Linked DNA regions of Homo sapiens. The protein of the gene in region 2 purifies or fractionates together with the protein of the main gene of each other region. This does not show direct contact. Each region holds a gene or a part of one and is shown on either strand. Other genes may lie near its edges. The genes, in order: CNNM1, FDFT1, USP32 and POMT2.

Region 1 (6,505 bases), on a different chromosome or scaffold from region 2:
CTTTGGGCACTGGGATGGCCCAGGGAAAGCTGGCTGAGGGGAGCCCTGGGACCGCAGCCCGTGCGTTAAACCTCCGACCTCCTTACACAGCCAGGGAAAGGAAACATTTACTGAGCATCTACCATGCATCAGGCCCTGTCTGATTCATTCTCCTAGGAAAACTGTGTAGGGCAGTATTAGGAGTTGGGTTTCTGCCTGGATTCAGACCCTGGCTCCTTCGTTTAGGAGTTATGCAATTTTAGGCAAGTTATTGAACCTAAGACTCAGTTTTTTTTATCTGAATGGATAAGTATCCTTATGTTAATAGGTATAAATTATGACAGCTATCTTATAAAGTAGCTTTGAGTATAAATGAGATAACATACATAAAAGGCATATTACAGTGTTCAGTACCATGCTTTATAAATGTTACATAGCTATTATTAGGCCTACCTTACAGATTAGGAAACTGATGTCAGCCATCATTCTAACTAGCTGTGGTTTTGACCAAAGGTGTAGCCTATAAGACTTTTCCTGAGGTCTAAGACCATATCACCTCCCTCTGAGACACTGAACACTTCTGCCTTGACAGTGGTGTTGCTCTGAGCTCCCAGGGTCCCAGCAGTCTTGAGAAGCTTCTGTGTTTGCCTCACTAAGATGTATTCCCCAAGCTTTCAGTAGCCCCCTATGCCTGCACCCAAGCCAGCAGTTCCCCCACCCGACCTGTCAGACCTACTTCAGTCCATAGTATAAGACCTCTCAAGTCCAGAGCAACAACCTGAAAAAGTGCTCCAAGATTTTTAAAGTTGGCCGGGCACGGTGGCTCATGCCTGTAATCCCAGCACTTTGGGAGGCCCAGGCAGGCGGATCACCTAAGGCTAGGGGTTCGAGACCAGTCTGACCAACATGGTGAAACCCTGTCTCTACTAAAAAAAACAAAAATTAGCCGGGTGTGGTGGTGGGTGCCTGTAATCCCAGCTACTCGGAAGGCTGAGGCAGGAGAATCGCTTGAACCTGGGAAGCTGAGGTTGCAGTGAGGCGAGATGGCGCCATTGCACTCTAGCCTGGGTGACAGAGTGAGATTCCATCTCAAAAAAAAAAAAAAAAAAAAAAATTTAAAGTCAACAAGACAATATGTTTGAACTTGTGGCTGACCCAGAAAATCTGGGACATACATAGTCACTGTTCCAGGACCTGAATTTAGAACTGATGTTCCTTTTCTGCCCCCAACACCAAATCTAGTAGCTAAAGCACATAGCAAGAAAATGTAACAAAGGAATAAGAATGAAGGCGATGGAGTGGTCTTGGAGATCATCTAGTCCACCCTCGTCCTGTGACATTTGAGGACCCTGGAGGCCTAGAGAAGGGAAATAACTTGCTCAAGTCCAAAAACTGCATCAGAAGCAGGCTCAGCCTCATGGCTTCAGTGCAGTGCCATTTCCAACACACCGCTCTGCCTTAGGTTTTTATTTGCATTGGTGGTAAGGCTTGGCCCCTTCTGGGCTCTCAGATTCTGTAACTCTTTGAATTCCCATTGAGTCCTGCGGGAGAAGACAGGGGCATTGTTGTTGAACCCTGTGGCTTTCCAGGGTTTGTGCAAATATACCAAGGAGACCTCCACCTATCCTCACGTGTGCTTTTAGTCTGGCAAATAGACTGGGTGGAGAACACATTGTTCTCTAAACCCTCTCTCTTGCCAAACAGTGTTTGAGAAGAGGGAATGATTTCTGACTTTGCATGGATCGTTGGATTCCGGCTCCTGTTCTCCATCTTTTTGTTCCTTTTGTGGCACTAAAATGCCTCTTGCTAACTAATGACACCCTGTACTTCCCTGGGCGTCCCTGCCTTGTTACACCACCCTCACCTTGGCTCACGTCTTAAACTTCACTTGCTGAGGGATGTCATCACTCAGAATCACCCTCTCTTGATGCCTGAGTGTGTAGGTTGAGACAACTTGAGTTCTCTCCTTTCCTTTCTCAGCATCAGATAGTGAATGTTGTAACATCAACCTGGATACAGAGACCAGCCCCTGCAGTAGCGATTTTGAGGAAAACGTGGGCAAGAAGCTGCTGAGAACCTTGAGTGAGTAGCTAGTTCTTCACCCAAATGAGAGCCACCCTGCTGATGGTTAGTAGGAAAAGCATGTTAGCATCTTCCTCTTGGGGGAGGAGCCATGGACTCCTCTTAGAAACCCTAATGAGGTACAATTGTGGAAATCCGCAGAAGGGGTTGGGCCAGCACTGCACCCTTGATAGTTTTGGGATCTGTCCCATTCAGTTGTTTGTCCTCTAGGACAGAAGTCTGCACACCATGCCCACAGGTCAATTCTGACCTCCCTCCTTTACTTGTTTTTGTAAGTAAGGACTTATTGGATCACAGACAGATCCATTTGTTATCTATGGCAACAATGTCAGAGTCGAGTAATTGTGACAGAGACCATATGGCCCACAGGCCTCTAATATTTTCTGTCTAGTCCTTTAAAGAATTGGTGTCCAGGAGACTCAATAGAAAGAGAGCAATCTCCTCCACAGATGGAAGTCAATGGTGGAGAGAACAAGGTGAAGATATTCCTTCCTAAAAACAGACCTGGGAACAGATTGCTCTCTCATCCTTGAGGACAACTATGTAATTATGCCCACCTGCCCCACTGCAGAAGGGAGGTTGCTTCAGAGCTAGAGAACGCAGGTCCCTGGAAATGGCTTGCAGCTACAGCCACCAACCCTGATTCATGGGACATCAAAGTCTATGAGATTGGTCCTCTCTGAGGGTGTCTGGCAGTCAGAGGGGCTGGCCCCCAAGGGGCGCAGGAGGCATGGGCCTGAGGTGTTACATGGGCTTTACTCAGTCCCCTCCAGGAAGTCTCAATTCCAGGCACCAGCCTGGGTTTGTGACTTTTCAGAGATGGCATCTTATGTGGAAAGTACGTCCTAATCTTTCAAGATGTAAATATGCCAATATCAGCACCAGCATACAATGCCGGTTAGTTCTAACCAAGCTGTCAAGGGCTTTGTCTCCATTTCTGCTTCTGTTTTGAAAAGAACTCAGACTGCCAAGCAATTATGAATGTTCCTCCAGTGTTACAGGCTGATACTTGCAACTTGTTTTTTTCAGGTGGCCAAAAAAGGAAGAGGTCACCAGAAGGAGAGAGAACCTCTGAGGACAACTCCAATTTAACACCTCTGATCACATGACAGGGCAAAGCCAGCATTCACTGGGTGTGTGAAATTCCAGAGCTTTGGGGGAGAATCCACCCTCCCATCATCTGCTTCCCCCAAGGCCTCCCACAGGTGACAGAATGTTCTGCCTTCCCTTCCATCTCTTCACCCCTAGCTGTCAGTTTGGCAGATTTTCCCTCGTTACCTCCAGTTCGACTCAGAACCTTGACATGGCCATAACAGAAGGAGGTGCCTCTGATAGAACATGCTAGAAATGGTCTTTTCCACAGCATAGTCTGGGACTGGAAAAGAGATGTCTGACTGCAAGCTGACAATGCCACTCTGGGACCCCTGATGCTCTTCTTTGTTCTTTGGGTCCCCTGATGCCATAGGAGACCTATCGTCTTGGAACTTGCCATTCTTTCCTCCAGAACAAAATGTTAACTTTCTAACACATTTCATGCATAGCTTGGCTCAGAAGGTGCCATTGGCAGACAGGCACATGGGAGGCTGGAGTAGGAGGTCTGAAGATTAGTTCAGGGGATGGACCAAGAATTTCCCCCAGAGCTTTAAAGAAGTGGGACTCAGCCATGTTGGCGCGTGATTGACATTACAGCACAGAAAACTGTTAGTGACTGGTTTCCTGTTAGATAAGGGTTCCAGCAGCCTGGGGCAGTATGTCTCAGCTGGAATGGAAAGAATGTGAGATGGAACCTCAAGTCACTGTTTTTACCAGGGACACATCTGTTTTGGCTCCCAATCAGCAGTCTTCAATCGATCAATAATTCTGCTCTGGAAGAGAAGGAACAGGGAGCAGAGAGACCCAACTGGGAGCCAGAGATGGAACTTCAGGTCTTAAGTGCAAATCAAAGCAAAAAACAAACAAAACTTACATGGAAAAACTGTAAGTGCTGAAAGCAAGTTTAGCCATGACAAACCAAAGAGTGCCCAGGTCAGCCAAGAAAGATACATAATCTCATGGGACTTCAGTGGGAGTTACACAGGAATGTTGAAGAATCATTCTTCTTTTTCATGCATTTGTCCTTCTCCCACCCCCTTACTACACCCTAGCAGATCAGCTGAGTGTACTTTATTCCAAGAACTTACTGGATCTCTGGTTTTTCTCCTGAAGTTGGGGCAGGTGCAATTCCAAGCATAACCACCAGATGGCAGAGTGACCGCGCATACCTGCTTCCAAGAATAAAACAGTTCTGAAAAGCAACCGCAAAGCCGGGCGCGGTGGCTCACACCTGTAATCCCAACAGTTTGGAAGACCGAGGCGGGTGGATCACTTGAAGTCAGGAGTTTGAGACCAGCCTGGCCAACATGGTGAAACCCCATCTCTCCTGGGCATGTAGTCCCAGCTACTCGGGAGGCTGAGGCAGGAGAATCGCTTGAACCTGGGAGGCAGAGGTTGCAGTGAGCTGAGATCACACCACTGCACTTCATCCTAGGCAACAGAGCGAGACTCTGTCTCCCCCCGCAAAAAAAAAAAAGAAAGAAAGAAAGAGAAAAGAAAAGAAAAGCAACCACAGCCAGCCTTAGGGAAAACTTGGAAGTAAGTGAAATTTGTCTTCAGAATAACTATCTCCCTTTCTGATCTGTCTCCTACTCTTTAGATGTTCTCAGTCAAGTACTCACTGAACTCATTGATCGAGTGCTGTCTGCTAAATCTCCAAACCATTCCCAAACCTTTCCCCGTAGTATACCATCCAGCTTCCCTCCCCTTCCTCCAAAACCCTCCCTCCCACCTCCCCACACCCATTGAGTCATTCACAGGCAGGAGGGAGACTGATCATTCCTCTGGGTTATCTGCATCTCAAAAGAAAATGCTTACCCACAGGAACTGTTAACTCAGGGGTTCTTAACTTGGGGTCCATCACCCCAGGGGGTCCATAGTTGGACTTCAGAGGGTCTATGAAACCCCTAAAACTGTCAGTATTTAATGTATTTATTCTTGTATGTTTTTTCCAGAGCATTAAAGCTTTCATAAGGTTCTCAAAGGTCTCAGACCTACAAAGAGTTAAAACAAACAGACAAACAAAAAAAAACACTACTATTTTAAATAGTGGAACTTTCAGCCCAGCGTTTCTGCAATGCAGAGTGAAGTGGATACTGGGCAGTTCGAGACAGGTTTTTAATCATAAGTGGTCTTTTCAAATGTCCATCAATTGATGGGGAAGGCTGGCACCCACCAAGAAGTGGAAGTCCTCAGAAATTCTCGGCACACCCTAGAGTATTGTACAACCAACACCCCCACATAACTTTGTCCCCTCTTCCCCAACAACCCAGAGCAGGTGTTGCAGACAGGAGGGCCACAGCGTGTGGAAGTAAAGACTTTGGAGCTAGAGAAGCCTTTTCCAGCAATGATTATTGACTTCACCACACCCCTTGCCTGGCCTGGCCTGAGGCTCAGCAGTGCATGACTTCTCGTAGATAACTTCACAGTCATCCAGTCCCAACACCTGCTCTTGCCTGGTAGGAACAGGCGAAGTGTCAGCCCTCAATGTTGGGTACTTAGACCCAAACCAATAAATGGTGAGTTTTGAACAAGAACTACCATCATGCAGGCTTCTTGCCCAGCTGACCACTGGCCCCGGGGTGCCTGCCTGGCTGGTCTTCATCACCTGAGGCCACCAGGCTCAAGCCACTGCTGTTGCATTACACCCATCCCTTTGCAAAATCCCTATGGAGCCTGTCACCACTCCCCTCCCTATATACCCCCACCCCACAAAGATTTTCTTCAGGTTAAAAAAAAAGTTTAAAAAAAAGATTTTAAAATAAAGCATTTATGAAGGCTTAATAAATTGTAAATAATTTTTAAATAAAATGAAAATGCCTTTCCTGGAATGTGGCTGTTTTCCTTGCCCCTGGAATCTTCTGACGTGGCTTCATTTGAGATGCAGGTTGAGTGATGCCCACGTGTGATGATCTCACCTGTGCACCACCTGCCTGAAGAGGCATGCCGCTCCGGGCCAGGTGTGAGGCTGCGGTGAGGTCACGGGGAAGCCTTGGCACACTACTTTGGGAGGCCAGATGGTAAGATTTTGCAGGAGTGAATGCCAGAAATGAGAAGTAAAACCCAAATGAGAAGCCAGTATGCATAAAGACGAGGAAGGAACTAAGACGACAGTGAGAAGGGCTGGCATTTGCTGAACCCATGTGATGGGTGAGGTGCTGTGCTGGGTGCCGTCCAAATTCAGGGTCTTGGGGGCTAAACCCAGACAAGCCCCTGAGACAGAATGTTGGTCACACTAGCTCGCTTCTGCAGAACCTTCAGAAAGGAGTCCAAGTGGCATGACTCTGGCAGTTTGCAACCAAAGGCTAGGGAACGGAACACAAGAATGGGCCAGGCCTGTTGGTCAGTTTTA
Region 2 (6,088 bases):
GAAGTACTGTTCTGCCCCCAAGCCAATCACCTGAAGACAGCTTTTGCCTTTCTTAAGACCTGAATATATAAACTGATAACTTTAGAAAACAAAAACTGCTGGGGGAAATTTTTTTTTTTTTTTTTTTTTTTTTTTTTTTTTTTTTTTTACAATTTTTTCCTTTTTTTGAGATGGAGTCTCGCTCTGTTGCCCAGACTGGAGTGCAGTGGCGCGATCTGAGCTCACTGCAAGCTCCGCCTCCCGGGTTTAAGCCATTCTCCTGCCTCAGCCTCCCGAGTAGCTGGAACTACAGGCACCCGCCACCACGCCTGGCTAATTTTTTTTTTTTTTAGTAGAGACGGGGTTTCACCGTGTTAGCCAGGATGGTCTCGATCCCCTAATGTCGTGATCCGACCGCCTCAGCCTCCCAAAGTGCTGGGATTACAGGCATGAGCCACCACGCTGGGCCATCAACTCCATTCTTGAGCTCCATCTTTTCCACAGTCAGGCAGGCTTTCAAGCGAACTGTACTTGACAAATGCAGAGCAATTAAATTCTTTATTATAAAAATCTCAAAAATGTCCACCTTTACTGGAGACCAATCTTCTAAAAGGTCAAAAGCAATCCTGCTGTTTCTCTCTGAAAGCTAAACTCCTTTAAATGAGAATACGAGAATACCCAGAATTTTATTCCCAGCCTTTGTGTGGAAAAGGCAGTTTGCATTCTTAGGAAACATCTAACTGTTACCTAAACCATAAATATTTCTATCTACTCCATTCAACCCAATTAAAGAAAACAAAATGATGAGAAAAATAGGAGCCGAACAGAAAGAAAATTCACATCATTTTCTACTATTACGAACATTCAAATGGTGCTTCAAATTAAATACTTTTAATTATCATTCTAGCCAGGATCATACTAAGTAGGATCTCATGACAGTCACATATGCAGCGACTTCACCTAAACCGTGGCACTGAATGCTCTGCCATGAGCCACAAGCAGCACAGTGATCATCACCCACAAGGACAGGTTGCTGGGATGAGGCACCCTTTCCTTTCATGTTTAGGTTCTTCTCACCTGCATTTCACTTTCCTAAAGGTCCCAGCCACACAGCGTTCTTTTAGGGATTAAAGTAGTAGGAAAAAAATAAAGAGAACACAACATCCATCCTTAAAGAAAAAAAGTAAATCCACTTTATGGTGGACTTCAGCTATGGACAAATTTGGGATCAGTGTTCTCCAGTCTGAACATAGTCTTCTGTTACCTGGGAGAGAGTGGTCAGGTACTGCCAGCTCAGGGCAGCCAAAAGCATGACAAACGACAGGTAGATGGGGGAGTAGTGGCTTCGGGAAATCAGCTGACAGTTGGGAAGATTCTGCGTCCGGATGGTGGAGATGATCTGCCTTGTTTTGCTAGAAGATGGGTCTGAGTCGGGGATTCTATGATAAATCTGTTAAAGACACAGGAAAAAATGATAAGTGCTATGTGCTTTACATTTTCCATGGCTACTTACAACAACCCTCCACTGGCAGGTATTTTATACCCATTTTACCAATGAGGAAAGGGAGGCTCAGAGAACATGAACATAACTTACCCAAAGCCATCCCAATGATAAGGTGGGGATGTCAGCCCCAGCTCATCTCAAAGCCTGTCTTCCTGAGCAAACAGGAGGCACAGGTGTGCATACTGCACCCAGAGGCCCTCGAGAGCAGCGGCTGAGCCACAATGATCTTCACATCCCCAGCACCTCACAGTGCCAGGCCCAATAAACGTCACCATAGTTCACGTAGACAGGCACAGACTAACATGACGAAAGGGAAATGCTGGAAAGACTGGGCAAAAGCAGCTTAGAAACAAGATGGAACACGCAGTACAGACCACAGCTTGACAAAGGGGGACAGGAACAGAAGCAGGGAGCCGTATGAACCACCCTGGAGTCCTCCCTGTGCCTCCCTCCCCACTCCTCCACAAGCCTCCCAAGTATGTGCAGAATCCATCTCTTCCCCTACATCCCTAAAATTACTGCCTGAGATTAGGCCCTGAGTGCCTCTCAGATGAGCTATCTCAGTCTCCAACGTGAGTCTAAGCTTAAATTCCCAAATCTACCTGTCTGCTCTACACTGTCACCAAGGAGATCTCAAACCTCTGCTTGATGCCTCAGTGGCACCAGCCCTCTCACCTGGAGAAAAAAAGCCTGAGCTCTGTAATGTGTAGCGCAAGGCCACCCATGGTCCAGACCTACTGCACCTGTCTAGTGTCACCAGCCCTTGCCCACCTCCCTCTCTACAGTCTAGTAACAGTTGCCGGGCCAGGCACAGTGGCTCATGTTTGGAATCCCAGCACTTCAGGAGGCTGAGGCACGTAGACTGCTTAAGCTCAGGCGTTTAAGACCAGCCTGGACAACACAGTAAAACCCTGTTTCTACAAAATGTACAAAAATTAGCCGGGCATCGTGGCATGCACCTGTGGTCCCCCAGCTACTTGGGGACTGGGGTGGGAAGATCACTTGAGCCTGGGAGGTGGAGGTTGCAGTGATCCGAGATCATGCCACTGCACTCCAGCCTGGATGACAGAACAAGACCCTGTCTCAAAAAACAAACAAAAACAAAAGAACAACTGTCTACTGTTGTTTCGCCCATGCGATGCTGCTGCACACCTCTGTTCCAGTCTCATACCACTCCTTCTCTCTGGAATGCGCCTCCCACGTCCCTTCAACTGGCTCCTACCTAGGCCCCCAAGTCTCAACTTCAGGATTATGCCTTCTAGAAAACCTGTCTGCAGCTCCAGGTTCAGCCAGGAGCCACCCTATTGTACATACCTTTACCTTTCCACTTACGTGGAAATGGACCATCTGTAGTTTTCACCCTGACTACACCGCACCTACTTACTCACCTTTTTATCTCCAGCCTAGCCCTGTGCTGGCACACAGCAAGCGTGCATCCCTGGCTAATTTTTGCATTTTTAATAGAGACAAGGTTTTACCAGTGTTGGTCAGGCTGGTCTCAAACTCCAGACCTCAAGTGATCCACCCACCTCGGCCTCCCAAAGGGCTGGGATTACAGGCGTGAGCCACTCCACCCAGCCAAGACTTTTCAATACAAGCATCCATAAAGTAAAATATATAGTGATGAGATAATTCTATTAGAAGTCATCCTTCTGCCTGCCCATGTTGCTTTACTGCTTGTCTTAGCCTTCCTCCTAAAAGCAGAACCTGAGGCAAAAGCTTGCATGCAGCCATTTATTTGGAAACGAGTGGAGAAGTGAAACAGAAGGCAGGAAGGCCTATCAAGGATGTGTTGAGTTGGCTTGATCTTGAGGGACCTTCAAGGAGCCTTATGAAAGGTGGCCCTGAGGAGCAGAGAGGTGGCCCTCACCTCCTCTGGGTTGTGGGGACCCACGTGCCAGGCAGTTCCTGCAGCTCGTCAGAAGCCCAAGGGCAGGAAGCGAGAGGTCTCTGGAGCAGAAGGCAAGGTCCAGCCCTACTTGGAAACTGGTTGCTACAGCAGTGGCCGAAGGCCAAGATGAGTGGCAGTGACACACAGGGTCTCACACACTACTCTTGTAAATGACCTGAGTGCCCTGATGCCATCAAAAGCCATAAAATAGGCATTCACTACAATGACCCTGAGAATAGTTTCTCAGGTAAGTAATGGTTTTGGTATATTGTAGATTTTTTTTTTTTTTTAAGATGGTGTCTCGCTCTGTCACCCAGGCTAGAGTGCAGTGGTGCAATCTTGGCTCACTGCAGCCTCCACTTCCCAGGTTCATGCGATTCTCCTGCCTCAGCCTCCCAAGTAGGTGGGATTACAGGCACCTGCCACCATGCCCAACTAACTTTTGTATTTTTTTTTTTTTTTTTTTTTTTTAGTAGAGACAGGGTTTCATCACATAAGTCAGGCTGGTTTCGCACTCCTGACCTCAAGTGATCCGCCTGCCTCAGCCTCCCAAAGTGCTGAGATTAGAGGCATCAGCCACCATGCTCGGTGACATTTCACTTTTGAAAATTTAAGACTTACCTTCTCAGAGCAACTGTACAAGCAATGTACAAATAAAGGATGATAACATCAGCACCAAACTACACACTTATTCATTCCTGGGTTAATTCTGTGGCTCCTATGACTTTATTTCTTCATTTTACTTTCTCATCTACTTGTACTTTGTTAGCCTGTTGTACTTATAACCATAAGCCATCTTACATCCTTTTGGGAAAAAAGATTTACTTATTTGGAATCAATCGCTGGCACCCAAGTGAATATACACAACCAACAAAAACCCTTTTAGAGAACTCCAAGAGCACTTCAATATGCCCTTCCAGGAGATAAGTAAGGTGAATAAATTAAGAGAAATCTTGGTTGTGACAGTCCCCGGTAATACAATTAGTGGCAAAACTTTTGAGTCCTTTGATGATCATTTCTAACATATAAGCATGACAGCACAACTGGAAGAGCTGCAGTCACTGGTACTCAGACGTGGACTTACCTAAAACAGAGCCGGTAAGGCCAAAGGGACCTTCTAGATGCTTCGTTGCTAGACCAAACCCCACTCTCCATTTACCTGAAGGCACACAGTAGGTTTCTGCAAACTCAATTATTCAGGTCTTAAAAACCTACTAGCCTCAATCAAGGAGTTACATCTGCTTGTCAAGGACAGGTCATAGCCGACTTTTCATCTACATGCCCGGCATAAAGTTGAAGCCAAATACTTGAGGGGTTTGAGAAAGGGCCTTCACCCTGTTGCCCAGGCTGGAGTGCAGTGGTGCCATCTCAGCTCACTACAACCTCCACCTCCCGAGTTCAAGCGATGCTCATGTCTCAGGCTCCGGAATAGCTGGGATGACAAGTGTGCACCACCACACCTGGCTAAATGTTGTATTTTTAGTAGAGACAGGGTTTTGCCATATTGGCCAGGCTGGTCTCGAACTCCTTACCTCAAGTGATCTGCCTGCCTCAGCCTCCCAAAGTTTTGGGATTACAGGTGTGAGCCACAGTGCGAGGCTTGATGATTAAATGACACAGGCTCCTATAAATGTTTACTAGACTGAAATAAGCTCTTGTGCAATGCTGTGCTACATACAGCAGCTCCTCTGTGAGTCCATGTGGTACTTCCACGTCTCAGCAGTTCTACTTACAACTGCGAATATGGAATCAGCTTGATCATCATTTAAAACTCTTGTCTATGAACATCTAAACTTCCATTAAAGCAAAAACATCATTTGGGAAAAAAAGGCAGATTCTGATTCGATACGTTTGGGTGGGGGCTGGATGTCTTAATGGGCTCCCAGGTGATTCCTGGCAGCTGCTGGCTGGGGACCATCCTTGAGCAGCTAGGCACCTGGGGCTCAAAGAGCCGGATGATTCTCTGACTTAACCACAGGAGGGCACAGGAAGTGTGCAGAGACACGAACAAGATTCTCCCTGCCAAGGAATTCACTTTGGCAGAGAGGGGAATGGGGGTTTCTGGCCGTTTGGCTGAGCATTTATTTCTATCCCAAAATAGCAGGTTGATCTTCTCCCCAGCTGACAAGCATCCAGGCTGGTTTGAAGCAGAGGCTGCTCCAGAGTGGGGTGAGGGCCCTGCAGTGTGGCCAACTGCTCGTGAAGACCTGGGGCTGCACTCCAAGCCCCCACTAAGCACTGGAGAAGCATGAGGAGGTCCTCTGGCAAGTCCCTTCCAGGTGCATGCTCGCTACAACACTAAGTCCAGAGATCGGACAGAGTCAACGTTTCTTCCTTTCTTACTACAAAGGACAGACTTGGTCAGCAAGGAGAAATAGGATCAGTGTTAATATCTGGACACCAGCAAGAGGCCAGACGACTTGTGGCTTCATACAAAATGTTTTCATTTAAAACTTTACTTGTAAAATGTCCTTACTGCTGAAACTAAAACCATTAACAGGTTCTACTGCTTAAGACTTAGAAATCTTCAAAGATTTCCCTAAATCAAATCAACTTAAGTATTAATATTAACATTTCTCCCCTAATGCCTTGAGTTTTACTGGGATAACAGAACAACTGATACCCTAAGTCAGAAGTCAGCAAACCTCTTATTCAAGGGCCAAAAAATATTTTCAGCTTTACAAGTCATCGCCTGTTGCAGCTCCTCAACTCGG
Region 3 (7,030 bases), on a different chromosome or scaffold from region 2:
TTATCCAGAATGTTACCGATGTAACATTTGTGAATAAATATATAGGTGCTGTATTTGCTCAGACTCTAGTTTGGGTTGTGTTTTCTTTTCCCTTTTTTTTGAGACAGGGTCTCTCTCTGTCATCCAGGCTGGAGCGCAGTGGTGTAATCACAGTTCACTGCAACCTCTACCTCCCAGGCTCAAGCAATCCTCCTGAGTAGCTGGGACTACAGACATGTACCACAATGCCCAGCTAATTTTTAGATTTTTCTTTTACAGAGACAGGGTCTCACTCTTTTGACCAGGCTGGTTTCGAACTCCTGGACTCAAGCAATTACCCCACCTCGGCCTCCTAAAGTGCTGGGATTACAGGCATGAGCCACCATACCCAGCCAGTTGTATTTTCTTTTTCCTTATATAGAGTAAAATAAGGGTGAGTGACCAAGAGGTTGATGCATACCTAGATCACCACTTTAAATGCCTTCCCACGCACCCCTTTCCTCCTGTTCCCTCTACCTGCAGGTTGTAGATGAGCATGAGAGTGTGGAGCAGAGTCGGCGAGCGCAAGCCGAGCCCATCAACCTGGACAGCTGTCTCCGTGCTTTCACCAGTGAGGAAGAGCTAGGGGAAAATGAGATGTACTACTGTTCCAAGTGTAAGACCCACTGCTTAGCAACAAAGAAGCTGGATCTCTGGAGGCTTCCACCCATCCTGGTATGTTACAGTCCTGCCTCTGAGAGAGCAGGAATCTGGCATAAAAGAAAGAAGACATGAACAAACAGGAGGTTTTGTTATTTTTGAGAATAAGACCTTTCCTGCAGCAGTGTTTAAAACACTTTCTGTACAAGCTTTTTATGTTGAATACAGAGATGAATCTTTCTACAAATATTTTGTAGTTCTTTTTCCTAAAGAGCTTATAACCTAGAAGATCAATCATGTAGACCAGTAACTGCAATTCAGTGCAATGTGAGAACTGCCACAAGGGGTACAACGTGGTGAATTTGAACTTCAAGAGAGGTTAAACTTCTGGCTCTGTGGAGAGAGGAAGCTTAGGCTAACCCTTTGTGGACTCTAGAAGAGCAACTGAGCCTGGAGCCCCCAACACCCACTGCACATAATCATGTGGCTATGGCACACTACTGAGTTGAGTGTGTGTACACAAGCACACCAGTGCACTAGGGCCTGTGTGTTCTTTTAGATTTAATTTACTTCTGCCTTCTCCCTTCATGGATTAGGAGACTGTCCTGTTGTTTGTCAGGAGAATTTGAAGTGACAAATCTTCCTATTCATTAAGATCAGTGTAACTGTAAGGTACTGGCATATTTTAATTCAGATATTTATATGTTTTTTTTTTTTTTTTTTTTGAGACAGGGTCTCACTGTGTCACCCAGGCTGTAGTGCAGTGGTGTAATCTCAGCTCACCGCAACCTCCACCTCTCGGGCTCAAGTGATTCTCTTGCCTCAGTCTCCTGAGTAGCTGAGATTACAGGCATGCACCACTACCACCCGGCTAATTTTTGTACTTTTAGTAGATATGGGGTTTCACCATGTTGGCCAGGCTAGTCTTGAATTCCTGACCTCAGGTGATCTGCCCACCTTGGCCTCCCAAAGTGCTGGAATTACAGGCGTGAGCCACCGTGCCCAGCCATGTTTTCTTATTCTATTCATGTCTCTGTCATACTACTCTGTGAAGCTGAATGTAGGTTTTTCTTAGACCAGAACAGCTTCCCAGGGAATGATGCACAAGAAATTAATAACATTGGTTGTTAGCTAGCTCCACAGATAGGAACTAGAGGGAAGGGGCAGGCTTGGAGACAAGGTGGGTGGGGAGGAGGGGGAGACTTTTTTTTTTTTTTTTTGAGACGGAGTCTCACTCTGTCGCCCAGGCTGGAGTGCAGTGGCACCATCTCAGTTCACTGCAAGCCTCACCTCCTGGGTTCATGCCATTCTCCTGCCTCAGCCTCCTGAGTAGCTAGGACTACAGGCGCCCACCACCACGCCTGGCTAATTTTTTGTGTGTTTTTTATTTATTTATTTATTTATTTATTTTTAGTAGAGATGAGGTTTCACTGTGTTAGCCAGGATGGTCTCGATCTCCTGACCTCATGAGCCACCCGCCTTGGCCTCCCAAAGCGCGGGGTTTATAGGCGTGAGCCACTGCGCCCGGCTGACGGGTAGACCTTTTAAAAAAAATTGAGGTATAATTAGCATACAATTAAAAGCATAGATTTTTAATATCCAGTTTGATGAATTTTGACAAGTATATATTTTCATATAATCATCACATAAAACAAGCAGAGCAGTCATGTAGACCAGTAACTGCAATTCAGTGTGATGTGAGAACTGCCACAAGGGGTACAATGTGGTGAATTTGAACTTCAGGAGAGGGTGAACTTCTGGCTCTGTGGAGGGTGGAAGCTTAGGCTAAGCCTTTGTGGACTCTAGAAGAGCAACTGAGCCTGGAGGCAGTACCCACTGCGCAGTCACGTGGCTGTGCCACACTGCTGAGTTGAGTGTGTGTGCACAAGCACACCAGTGCACTGGGGCCTATGTAGAGGCCTTTATGAAACCATATTTTTGAAGTCTTTAAAAAATAATGAAGAGTAAATGTTCTGTTATATATTCCCAAACATTCACATGTATTTGACTTGTTTTTTCCATGTAAATTTTGTATCTTCAGAACCCTTTAATGCAGATGTTTTCTACCTTTACTTCTCCAGATTATTCACCTTAAGCGATTTCAATTTGTAAATGGTCGGTGGATAAAATCACAGAAAATTGTCAAATTTCCTCGGGAAAGTTTTGATCCAAGTGCTTTTTTGGTACCAAGAGACCCGGCTCTCTGCCAGCATAAACCACTCACACCCCAGGGGGATGAGCTCTCTGAGCCCAGGATTCTGGCAAGGGAGGTGAAGAAAGTGGATGCGCAGAGTTCGGCTGGGGAAGAGGACGTGCTCCTGAGCAAAAGCCCATCCTCACTCAGCGCTAACATCATCAGCAGCCCGAAAGGTGAGGCCTGGGGGCCTTATGCAGGTGCTTTCTTGGGACTCCTGTAGGCTACATATGTTTCTCTGTCTTCTGTTCTGGAACATCAGGTTGGTTGGGTGGAAAGAACCTATCTGGAATCAGACCTATCTGTATTTGAGCTATGTAAGTTTTAGCAAGAGGTTCAGCCTCCCTGAATCTATTTTCTCATCTGTAAAATGGAGATAATGCCAGGTTTACAGAGTTGAGAGTGACACATGGAGAGTAAAGCACTTCACACAGTGCCTGATATACGGTAAACAGGAATGGTAGCTGCTGTCTTGTCCCCTTATAGCAAAAGTTCTGAGGTTCCCCATCTTTCAGGGGGTCTAGAGGATCAAAACTCTTTTTTTTTTAATTTATTTTATTTTTTATTTTTTTGAGACAGGGTCTCACTCTGTCACCCAGGCTGGAGTGCAGTGGTGCAACACAGATCACAGCTCACTGCAGCCTCTACCTCCTGGGGTCAATCAATCCTCCCACCTCAGCCTCCTGAGTAGCTGGGACTACAGGCATGCACCACTGCACCTGGCTAATTTTTGTATTTTTTGTAGAGATGGTGCTTTGCCATATTTCCCAGGCTGGGCTCGAACTCCTGTGCCCAAGTGAACCTCCTGCTTCAGCCTCTTAAAGTGCTGGGATTACAGGTGTGAGCCACTGTGCCTTGCCCAAAACTATTTTCATAAAAATACTAAGACAATATGTGCCTTTTCACTTTTATTCTCTCACAAATGTACAATGGTGTGAGAGATAACATGACATGGAATAATATCGTCACTTTGACAGTGAAGTCTGTGCTAATGTATTGTACTTTTTCATTCCTTAGTTTTAATTTCTAATACGGGAAATATTGATAGATAAAATTCACATAAAAGTTCTAAAGGTTCTCAATAATTTTTAAAGGTATAAAAGGGGCTATGGGTAAGAGGCTATAACCAAAAAGTTTAAAGCCTTACAGGATTTTTGTGAGACATAGAGGTAACAATGGACAGCAACAAATTCCCAGTACCATGCCTAACAATAGGAAGTACTCAGTAAATGGTGGTCACATTTTTTGTCTAATTTTACAAAGGAGAGGAATATGTATTTGGAAAACTCCTTACTCTAATAGTTAGATTTTTTTCAACTGAATCTGACATAAATCATCTTTCTGCTATTTTCTGAGTCCCTATAATGTACTTTACATTTTGAGGACATTGTTGCTTATAGGGACTTGGCATTGAAGAAGACAAAAATGTAACTTACTGGCTACATAATAGGAACTAAAGAGTAGCCAGTCACGACTGCCCTGTCTTTACCTTTGTGTGTACAGTTGTGAAGCTAACCTCAGAGGTAGCATTTGGGGCTGGCTTACTTTGTGGCATTTGAATTTGTGAATCTTTTCTTCTGTCCTGTTCACAGGTTCTCCTTCTTCATCAAGAAAAAGTGGAACCAGCTGTCCCTCCAGCAAAAACAGCAGCCCTAATAGCAGCCCACGGACTTTGGGGAGGAGCAAAGGGAGGCTCCGGCTGCCCCAGATTGGCAGCAAAAATAAACTGTCAAGTAGTAAAGAGAACTTGGATGCCAGCAAAGAAAATGGGGCTGGGCAGATATGTGAGCTGGCTGACGCCTTGAGTCGAGGGCATGTGCTGGGGGGCAGCCAACCAGAGTTGGTCACTCCTCAGGACCATGAGGTAGCTTTGGCCAATGGATTCCTTTATGAGCATGAAGCATGTGGCAATGGCTACAGCAATGGTCAGCTTGGAAACCACAGTGAAGAAGACAGCACTGATGACCAAAGAGAAGATACTCGTATTAAGCCTATTTATAATCTATATGCAATTTCGGTAAGTGGTTTATTATATGGTTTTCAGAGAGTGGTCTGTGTTTTGTTCACTTGTCTTCATGTATTCATCAGCAAGTATTTTTTTCAGGTCCTGCTTATTTCCTAGCATTGAGCTTAGTGATAGACAAAGTTAACACAGAAATCTTGGCCTGCCCAGGTGTGGTGACTCACACCTGTAATCAATCCCAGCACTTTAGAAGGCTGAGGCAGGAGGATCACTTGAGCCCAGGAGTTTGAGACCAGCCTGGCCCCATCTCTAGAAATAATTTTAAAATGGAGCAAGGTATGGTGGCATGTGCCTGTGGTCCCAGCTACTTGGAAGGCTGAGGCAGAAGGATCACCTGAGCCCAGGAGGTCAAGTCTTTAGAGAGTTGTGATCACTCGACTGCACCCCAGCCTGGGTGATAGAGCAAGTCCCTGTCTCAAAATAATAATAATAATAATAATAATAATAATAGTAATTACAATTATAAAATGATTGTTTATCCACACAAGACTTAGAGCTTATGACTTTTGTATTTTGCTTTTTGCTTATTTTGGTTTTAGAAAAAGTTAGAGGGTTCTAAAATATTTTTTCACCTACTGATCATTTACATGATCAGTGTTCTCCTGCTCAGATCCTAGTGCTATACCCTGGCCATAGTACAGTTAACTGCTAACATACCTCCACTCTCTTATCTCTTACAGTGCCATTCAGGAATTCTGGGTGGGGGCCATTACGTCACTTATGCCAAAAACCCAAACTGCAAGTGGTACTGTTACAATGACAGCAGCTGTAAGGTAAACATTCTCAGTCTTTGAATGAAAGTTAGAAACAGAATATCAACAGAACTGGGGAACATTTGTTGAAATAATGGACTATCTCTTGAATAGGAAATAGATATTTCTGTTAGAATCAATATATAGATGCTGTCAGTATTAAAGGAACAAAAGTTATATGCAGAGTAGGGAATGAAAACATGAGTAGTGAGGAAAAATAAAGAGTTAGTTGACTGGGTGCAGTGGCTCATGCCTGTAATCCCAGCACCTTGGGAGGCTGAGGCAGGCTTAGGAGGTGGATCACTTGATGTCAGGAGTTCAAGACCAGACTGGCCAACATGGTGAAACCCCATCTCTACTAAAAATACAAAAATTAGTTGGGCGTGTTGGCGCGTGCCTCTAATCCCAGCTACTCGGGAGGCTGAGGCAGGAGAATGGCTTAAACCTGGGAGGTGGAGGTTGCAGTGAGCCAAGACTGCGCCACTGCACTCCAGCCTGGGCAACAGAGCAAGACTCTGTCTCAAGAAAAAAAAAAAACAGGAGTTAGTTAATGCAAAAACTCCTATCTTCTAGACTGTTAGAATTTGATGGGGTTGGGCCGAACACGGTGGCTCACGCCTGTAATCCCAGCACTTTGGGAGGCCAAGGCAGGCGGATCATGAGGTCAGGAGATCGAGACCATCCTGGCTAATATGGTGAAACCCCGCCTTTACTAAAAGTACAAAAAATTAGCCAGGCGTGGTGGCACGCACCTGTAGTCCCAGCTACTCGGGAGGCTGAGGCAGCAGAATCGCTTGAACCCAGGAGGCAGAGGTTGCAGTGAGCTGAGATCGCACCAGTGCACACCAGCCTGGTGACAGAGCGAGACTCCATCTCAAAAAAATAAATAAATAGAATTTGATGAGGTTTTAGGTCATTCTTTTTTGACTTGTCTATGGTCAAAATATTTTCCCCAAAGCAAACATTGGAAATAATGGGGCTCATCTTAAAGGGGCAGGTGTGAGACAGCCAAACTAGTGAGCTTATTGGAAGCAATCAGGTTTAGTAATTACAGAGGGTTGGTCTTCCCTTTCCTGGCAAGGATTTAGAGCCATAGTAGTGATGGCTTTTTGTTAAAGGTTTTTCTTGCCCTTTCAGGAACTTCACCCGGATGAAATTGACACCGACTCTGCCTACATTCTTTTCTATGAGCAGCAGGGGATAGACTATGCACAATTTCTGCCAAAGACTGATGGCAAAAAGATGGCAGACACAAGCAGTATGGATGAAGACTTTGAGTCTGATTACAAAAAGTACTGTGTGTTACAGTAAAGCTACCACTCTGGCTGCTAGACAGCTTGGCGGTGAGGGAGATGACTCCTTGTAGCTGACATTTGGCAAAAGCGTCACTGAAAGGCAAGCTAAATGTAGTTATTTTATCCTGTGGCCCTGAAGCACAAAATA
Region 4 (7,030 bases), on a different chromosome or scaffold from region 2:
GATAATCACATATCTGGCTTGAGATAGTGATTCTTAAACATTATTCCTGCAGAACACAGGTTTTCCATAAGCCAGAATAAGGGGGTCTTCCACTAAACAGCAGGACTACAGCAGGGGAAAATTTAAGCTAGTGAGTAGAATTTTCTCAATTTAAAGATTTCTTCTCTGAATTTTTCTTAAACCTTTGATGCTACAACTGCTGTCAGCTACTAATGATAGAGAGTGCAAACAATGTCTTAGAAAACCTTAAAAAGAATCAATCATGCCCTGCCTAAGCAGTTTCTGTCCAGGAATATGAGTGGGCTCGTGGCTGGGATTTCATGCTGCATATAAACAACACACTCAAATTAGCTATCCATCCTAACTGATCCTGATTTCATATGATGGAATGAACTATCAGTATCTCATGATCTTCAACCAAGAGCACTATGATTTTCAGGGGCTCTGCCACTTGGGCAGATTCACAAATCACTTAGAGGTGAAGGAGTGTAGTGGTAACTAGCAGTAACTCTAAAAGCCTACCAGCCTGGCTCTGAGGGCTGGATCTACCTCTTACACTTAGCTGTGTGACCCTGGGCAAGTTCCCTGACCTCTTTGTATGTCAGTTCCCTCTCCTGTAACTGGGAATGATGGCAACCTCCATATGATTGTAATAAGTATCAGATGAGTATAGTGCTTAGCGTAGTGCCTGGCACATGAGCTGTACAAGCAGTCACTGGTATCACCATCATCACCACCATCCTCATTCTGTGGTGAGGGAAATGCCTTTGAGGATCACAGAAAACCGTAGTAAAGATGCTTTCAAATTCCTCCACAAGGGGGAATGGATCTGTAGCATGGCATTGACTTGTGATCCAAATTCATGGCTGCCCAAAAGCTCTTAGAGACGCCATGAAATGAGAAGGGGACACATACCCGGATCATGACCATGTGGGATTCCAGCAAGATCTCAGGAAAACTGGGCTGTAGCACATCCAGGCTGATGTTTGGCACTAGGGGAAAAAAATGCAGGAGAAAAGCCTTTGTCATACATTCTTTCCTCAGTCTGTCCATGGTGTCCACATTCCCACCAGAATCCAAATGCAGCCTTGCTGACAAGTTCACAACTGTTGAGGAGACAGAAGAAAGCTTGGCCCAATTCTTGATCATTTACTTAGCTGTATGAAGAACTCATCAGGCATTCTAAGAAATGCAAAGGAAATAGACAACAAGGTTTCACCTGCTTGGTGCTCCAACAGCTCCCAGCACCATTGCTTTTCACTGTGGTACTGGCTCAAATGCTGCTCTCCTATTAGGCATAAGGGACAGCTGCACAGCCCCCGAGTCACTGTGGCCCTTTGAAGGGCCTGGGAATGAGGAATAAATCATTCTGGACGCCTGGAGCAGCTGCTGTCGGGATGGGGACCAAGTCTGTCTCCTCGCCAATATGTCCACAGGGCCCCATGTGGTTCCTGGCATACTTGATAAAGAGTTGTTGAATTAGTTGATTAGTGGGTTTGGCTAGATTAGGTGGGAAGAAGAACAAAATGAAGGCACACATAAGCTTGAGGTGGGTAGTTTAGGAAAACAGATGATGAATCCAAATACTTATTGAGTTGAAGCTGACAACGCAGTGGAAATATCAAATTGGAGCTTGGGTGTAGAGATGTGGGGCACAGATCAGGGCTGTGGCAGTCACTTTCTATAAAAGCATTGGCTGGATATGTGGGGGGGCGGGGGAGCGACTCTACACTGAGGCATAAAGGGAAAGTAGCAGCTTGCTCCAAGCCTGGAGGCTGGGGAGGTGCCCATGGTGCAGGGGAGAGAGGAGCCCAGAGGAAGACGAGACAGATGGATCTGCAGATGGCCACTGGCCACTTTAGGGAGAGGAGTTTACGGAGGGAGTGGATGAGAAGGAAAAGGAGTATGCTATGTAGGTACAGACAACTCATAGAAAGAGAGTGTTAACAAGGAACAAACAGCAGCAAGTTGAAGGGATAGCACAGTTTACAAACGCTTACTTTTCTAAGATAAGGGTTTCTTATAAATGCTTCCCTCCAGAGCCAGCCCAGAAAGTGACCTCACTCACACTTGGGATTGATATGGTCCTCCACATTCCAGATGGAGTTGAGGGTTTCTTTCAGGTATGGGGTGCAAGTAACTTCCAACTGCTCCCAGCCCCTGTGAAAAGCAGAAGTCACAGATGTCTCTCAGAAGACGTGAAATCCACCAGAGAGTGACACTGTCTTCTGCTCTTAAATCCACAGGCTCCTTCTCTTTTCCACATGGTGGCCATTATTTCTTCATGTTCCATGTTGGACAACTATCCTAGGATAGTCTAGCATACAGTATTCCCATTTTAGAAAAAGACATAGACCCAGAGAGTTATTAGCACCAGCCAGATGTGAAAATGTTGAACTATCAGAACACATAAAACACCGAAGCTCCCCCGGAGTTCTGTGCTCCATAATACACCTGATATCTACTCTCCCTCCATCTGCCACTAAGAACAAGCAGACAGCAGGTGAACACAGGAAAACAAAAGCTTCTGGCATACTCCTTGTAGAGTGAAAGGAAAATCAGGACCCTCGATTGGGACAGCAAAACCCTAGAGACTTACCACTTGGGCAGAACCTTTCCCGAGGAGCCCAGGACACAACCTGTGACCAAATGGATGAAGCGAATTCGACTTCTCAGCACTTTGATCCGGTTTCCAAATTTCCTGTTTACGACCTCAATCCGCCAGAAATCATTTGAGTCCCCTGTTCCATTCTGCCATAAAAGCCAAGAAAAAAATACAAAGAAAGTGAGGGGACTTTAGAGAAAACGTGTCAGAAAGGGAAATGGCCACCCAGATGCCACCATGTTATGAAGGTCAAAGACCAAATTAGGCTCAATGATAGAGATGGGCAAGGTTACAAGAAGGCCAAAGAAATATCCCAGGTGATTGGCATTGTCCCAAAACTCACTATTACAACCAAAAAACAGTAGTATGACTCCTGGAACCAGAAGTCCAGGAGTCCAACTCTTCACTTCATAGAACTAGAGTTCAAGTTCTAAATACCTGTCTTTGCCCTTCAACCAAACTCAAGACATCACTCTGAGCCAACAGAAACAGATCTGGGCCATTTGCATCCATTACCTTGGCTATCTAGGTATTCACTCATCTAAGCCAGAAAGGTCTGGCCTGGCTATTGCACTTTGGAAATTAAGACATGTATGTCTAATTCTTCTCAGAAGATGCCCACAAAGAAGATTAGAATGTTCACAGTCTTGACCTAGCACAATGTGGAATGAGCAAACAGAAAGAGGGCTGGGAAATCCACCTGAAGGCCAGAATCTGTATACAGTTTTCCACTAGTAGTTTTTGTCTTCAGTTACTCCCAAAGCCATAAGTACTCATAGAGCTTTTATTTATTAGCTGCATCTCCTTGAGGTAGTAAAATACAAAAGCTATGGATAATATCCCTCTGCAGAACAGGGAAATGATACTTAAAAATAAAGCTAATGAGAATTTGGGATCTGGCAAAAGATAAACATACATGTTGTTCATCTGGGGTCATATTGTGGGTCCTTGGCTTCTATGTCCAATGTGATTTTAAAAGAGATCCAAATAGTATTCATATTTGACATTTATTAAGTATCAGAGCATGTAAATGGCATGGTTATTATGTGAGGAGAGAGATGGAGACAAACAGACTTCATAGGCTGCTTTTCCCAGAGCAGGCCTAGCCAAAAAGTGCCCAAATGTTAAGAGAGTCCCTGTGCAGCCTCTTATCCTCAGGAACATTCCAGAATTCTGGGGAGGAGATATCCCACCACACAGCCCTGAGCCAAGGCCCATAACTTTTACGTCCTACTCACATCCCCGTTGCTTACTTACTATGCCATAGCCGGTGACCTGATAGTGCTTCCGGGTCATGGGGGCCTCATGATAGTGACTGTGCAAGTTCCGGGAAGTTCTAGAAGTTAGAAAAGAGAAGTGTCATTATCCTATAGAAAGATGATGTGCAACATTTCTTCTTTTACCAAGGATGTTCAGAGTCAACTGTCAGGATAAGAAAAATTAGAATCTGAACTATTAAATCCAACATATCAGGAACTGGTTTCCTATTTACTCACAAGAAATATCCTGAGAACTGGAGAAGAGATGAGCCCAAACCAGGAGAGACAGATGGTAGGAGCACTGGACGGCATGCCAAGAAAGGGGCTAACTTTAGGTGCTGGCAGGGAGGTGGGGGGCGACTTTCACACATTTAGTAGCTTTGAAGCACTTAGCTTGCCTGACTTAGGAGGCAGGTTTGAGGAGAGGAAAAATTAAAACTTGTAATCTGCATGGCCTGAGCTAGGTAACCTCCTCACTGCCACTTACTCTTTCTGCTCCCATCGCCAGATTTTTTTAAGTGGACATCTGTGGAGGATGAGAGGGGTTTAATTTAGCTTTTATTTAGTTTTATATAACAACTCTCACTTTTATCTGGAACAAATAATAAATGTTCATTATAAAATTTCTGAAAATTTGCAAAAGTAAAATTTAATTACAATAAATTTTTATTAATGACAAATGAAATTTATTTAATAAAATAAAAATTTTAAGTATTCAAAATCCAGCTGACTCAAAAAAAAACCATAGCTAATTGCTTCTCTCTCTGTCTCTGTCTCTCTCTCTCTCTCTCTCTCTCTCTATATATATATATATATACCCACACACATACACACCTCTGATTTTTAAAAATTTGTATCCGATAATTCCAGTCTATGAAATGTTTACGGGGCTGCTCCTGCTGTCTGTCGTTTCAGCTTGTTCTTGCACACAGTGCCCTATTTCCTTGTGTGCTTTGTTACTTTTGGGTGTGTACTATTGTCACTAAAAAACTATGGGAACAAATGACAACGACTTTCCCCAAAGAGGGCTTACATTTGCTTTTAGCCATGCACCTAGGAGACACGACCAATCTAGGATCATGTTCATTTAAATTCATGTCTTGGAGATTCTGAGATCACCCAGGCAACATGAATTTGAGCTCCAAGTTCATGTGAGGATCAAATGGTAGTTCCAACTTCTCAGGAACTAAGGACAGTTCACCACCCAACCCCCAACACTTAGCTGGGTCCTAAAGTGGACCTGGGCATAAGTGGATAGGGCAGATTTACCCTTACCCCAAGCCTTTGGGGGTTCCAAATATGGGGAAGGATAACTTAATAAATTTACCACTTTGGGTGAGCCTAGGTTTGACTTTAAAACCTCTTCTCTCAAGAGACAGCCAAAAGTCAAGATTGTGGGATCAAAGCAAAAGTGGCTTCAGTGTCTCACTTATTTCTCTGGATTCCTCATTTCACTTAGGCTTTGGCCTGGTAACTCTTTAATATCTTGTCAGCCTTTTTATGCTCTTAAGAAGTCTTTATATTATTCCAGCATTTTTAGTCATTTTCAGTGAGAACACTGGTTAAATAAGCTAGCTTGCCATATTCTCAGAAACAGACTCCTACGTCTTTCTAAAGGCAGCCACTTAAGAAGAAGCTTTGGGAGCTGGGTGTGATGGCTCATGCCTGTAATAGCAACCATTTGGGAGGCTGAAGCGGGAGGATCGCTTGAGCCCAGGACTCTGAGGCCAGCCTGGGTAACATAGTGAGACTCTGTCTCAAAAAAAAACAGCAGCAGCAGCTTTCAGCAACTCAAATTTTCCTCTAGGAAATGGGAAATTGAAAGGTCCCCAGAAGGCAGGCAAAGGCTGGCCTGCAATTTCATCACCTTCATAAAATGCTTCTCCCATTCTCGCACTGTGGCCTTGCTCCATTGACCAGAGCCTCATCAAAATCTAACTTCTGTTTACTTCTTAAAATAACTCCCTCCCCTTGGTGCCCGTACCATTTATTTATCCAAACTGCAAATTGACTTACTCTTTGTGTTCTAGTCGAATAATGTCTCCATGTCTTACAAACTCCACTGGGAAGGAAGGGTCTAGGGGATCTGCCAAAAAGAAACAAGCATTGATATCCAAAATCACTCACCAGGCTAGTATTAATCAAGGGCCTACTGGTAAACAGTTATAGTACCATGTGGTATCTGCTAGAGGTACTAACCAGGTACTCTGAGACCAAAGAGGAAAGACCCCTAAATTGCTTCAGGGTATTAGAGAAGGGTGTCCCAGAGATAATGCTCGAAAAGACTCTTAAGGGAAAGGGAGAATTTTGTCAGGTGAACAAGCAGGAGAAAGGCACTAGAAGTGTGAAAGAAGAAAACTTCTGGCCGGGCACAGTGGCTCACGCCTGTAATCCTAGCCCTTTGGGAGACCGAGGCGGGCAGAACACCTGAGGCCAGGAATTCGAGACAAGCCTGGCCAACATGGTGAAACCCCATCTCTACTAAAAATACAAATAATAGCCGGGCGTGGTGGTGCACGCCTGTAGTCCCAGCTACTCGAGAGGCTGAGGCAGGAGAATCGCTTGAACCCGGGAGGCGGAGGTTGCAGTAAGCCGAGATTGCGCCACTGCATTCCAGCCTGGGTGACAGAGCAAGACTCTGTCTCCAAAAAAAAAGAAGAAGAAAAACTCCTTCGATGAATAGCAAATGGGTTTCATACTGTAAGGGTGGGTGGGGTGGGGGAGAGTGGGAACAGATGAGGCTATGAACGAGTGTGGCCAGACTGCATATTCCAGGCTGGAATGTGGCCTTTACCCGATGAGGCACTGAAGCCCCCACTGGAGCTTAAGCTGGGAAGCTAAATAGTAAGACTTTAGTAGTAATAACAGCCTTCTAAAAAGTAATTCCATACAAATGACCACTTGCCCAACTCTCCTCAAAATCAAATAAACCCTGACAATCTTGCCAGCGAGTATCTTGTCTCTGGCAATAAACTTGCTAAATGTGAGGTGAATAATGATGAAATGATTAAAGGACTACTTCTGTATCATCTCAAAATCAAGACCAATCAGGATCTAGAAAGGTGATGACATGGAAAAGGAGCTGGCAGTAATCATAGCAACACAGAATGGATCCTTGCAAATTTCTGTCCCAAACAGTGAGATACCAACACACTATAAATTGATC

The links.
Region 1: the proteins of FDFT1 (region 2) and CNNM1 purify together in Homo sapiens (affinity purification with mass spectrometry; 2 studies listed by BioGRID and IntAct, with this or other methods). This does not show direct contact.
Region 3: the proteins of FDFT1 (region 2) and USP32 purify together in Homo sapiens (affinity purification with mass spectrometry; 2 studies listed by BioGRID and IntAct, with this or other methods). This does not show direct contact.
Region 4: the proteins of FDFT1 (region 2) and POMT2 purify together in Homo sapiens (affinity purification with mass spectrometry; 2 studies listed by BioGRID and IntAct, with this or other methods). This does not show direct contact.

What each region holds. Positions count from the first base shown.
Region 1 is NC_000010.11:99,388,347-99,394,851, forward strand, and holds the end of CNNM1 (metal transporter CNNM1), read left to right. Parts: intron 1-1,959; coding exon 1,960-2,061; intron 2,062-3,090; coding exon 3,091-3,170; 3' UTR 3,171-5,984; downstream 5,985-6,505. UniProt on the Homo sapiens protein: Probable metal transporter.
Region 2 is NC_000008.11:11,833,729-11,839,816, reverse strand, and holds the end of FDFT1 (squalene synthase), read right to left. Parts: intron 1,430-6,088; coding exon 1,208-1,429; 3' UTR 519-1,207; downstream 1-518. UniProt on the Homo sapiens protein: Catalyzes the condensation of 2 farnesyl pyrophosphate (FPP) moieties to form squalene. Proceeds in two distinct steps.
Region 3 is NC_000017.11:60,179,123-60,186,152, reverse strand, and holds part of USP32 (ubiquitin carboxyl-terminal hydrolase 32), read left to right. Parts: intron 1-501; coding exon 502-693; intron 694-2,699; coding exon 2,700-2,988; intron 2,989-4,404; coding exon 4,405-4,829; intron 4,830-5,515; coding exon 5,516-5,608; intron 5,609-6,724; coding exon 6,725-6,898; 3' UTR 6,899-7,030. UniProt on the Homo sapiens protein: Deubiquitinase that can remove conjugated ubiquitin from target proteins, such as RAB7A and LAMTOR1.
Region 4 is NC_000014.9:77,282,882-77,289,911, forward strand, and holds part of POMT2 (protein O-mannosyl-transferase 2), read right to left. Parts: intron 5,951-7,030; coding exon 5,881-5,950; intron 4,391-5,880; coding exon of another isoform or gene 4,352-4,390; intron 3,942-4,351; coding exon 3,863-3,941; intron 2,752-3,862; coding exon 2,600-2,751; intron 2,161-2,599; coding exon 2,069-2,160; intron 993-2,068; coding exon 916-992; intron 1-915. UniProt on the Homo sapiens protein: Transfers mannosyl residues to the hydroxyl group of serine or threonine residues. Coexpression of both POMT1 and POMT2 is necessary for enzyme activity, expression of either POMT1 or POMT2 alone is insufficient.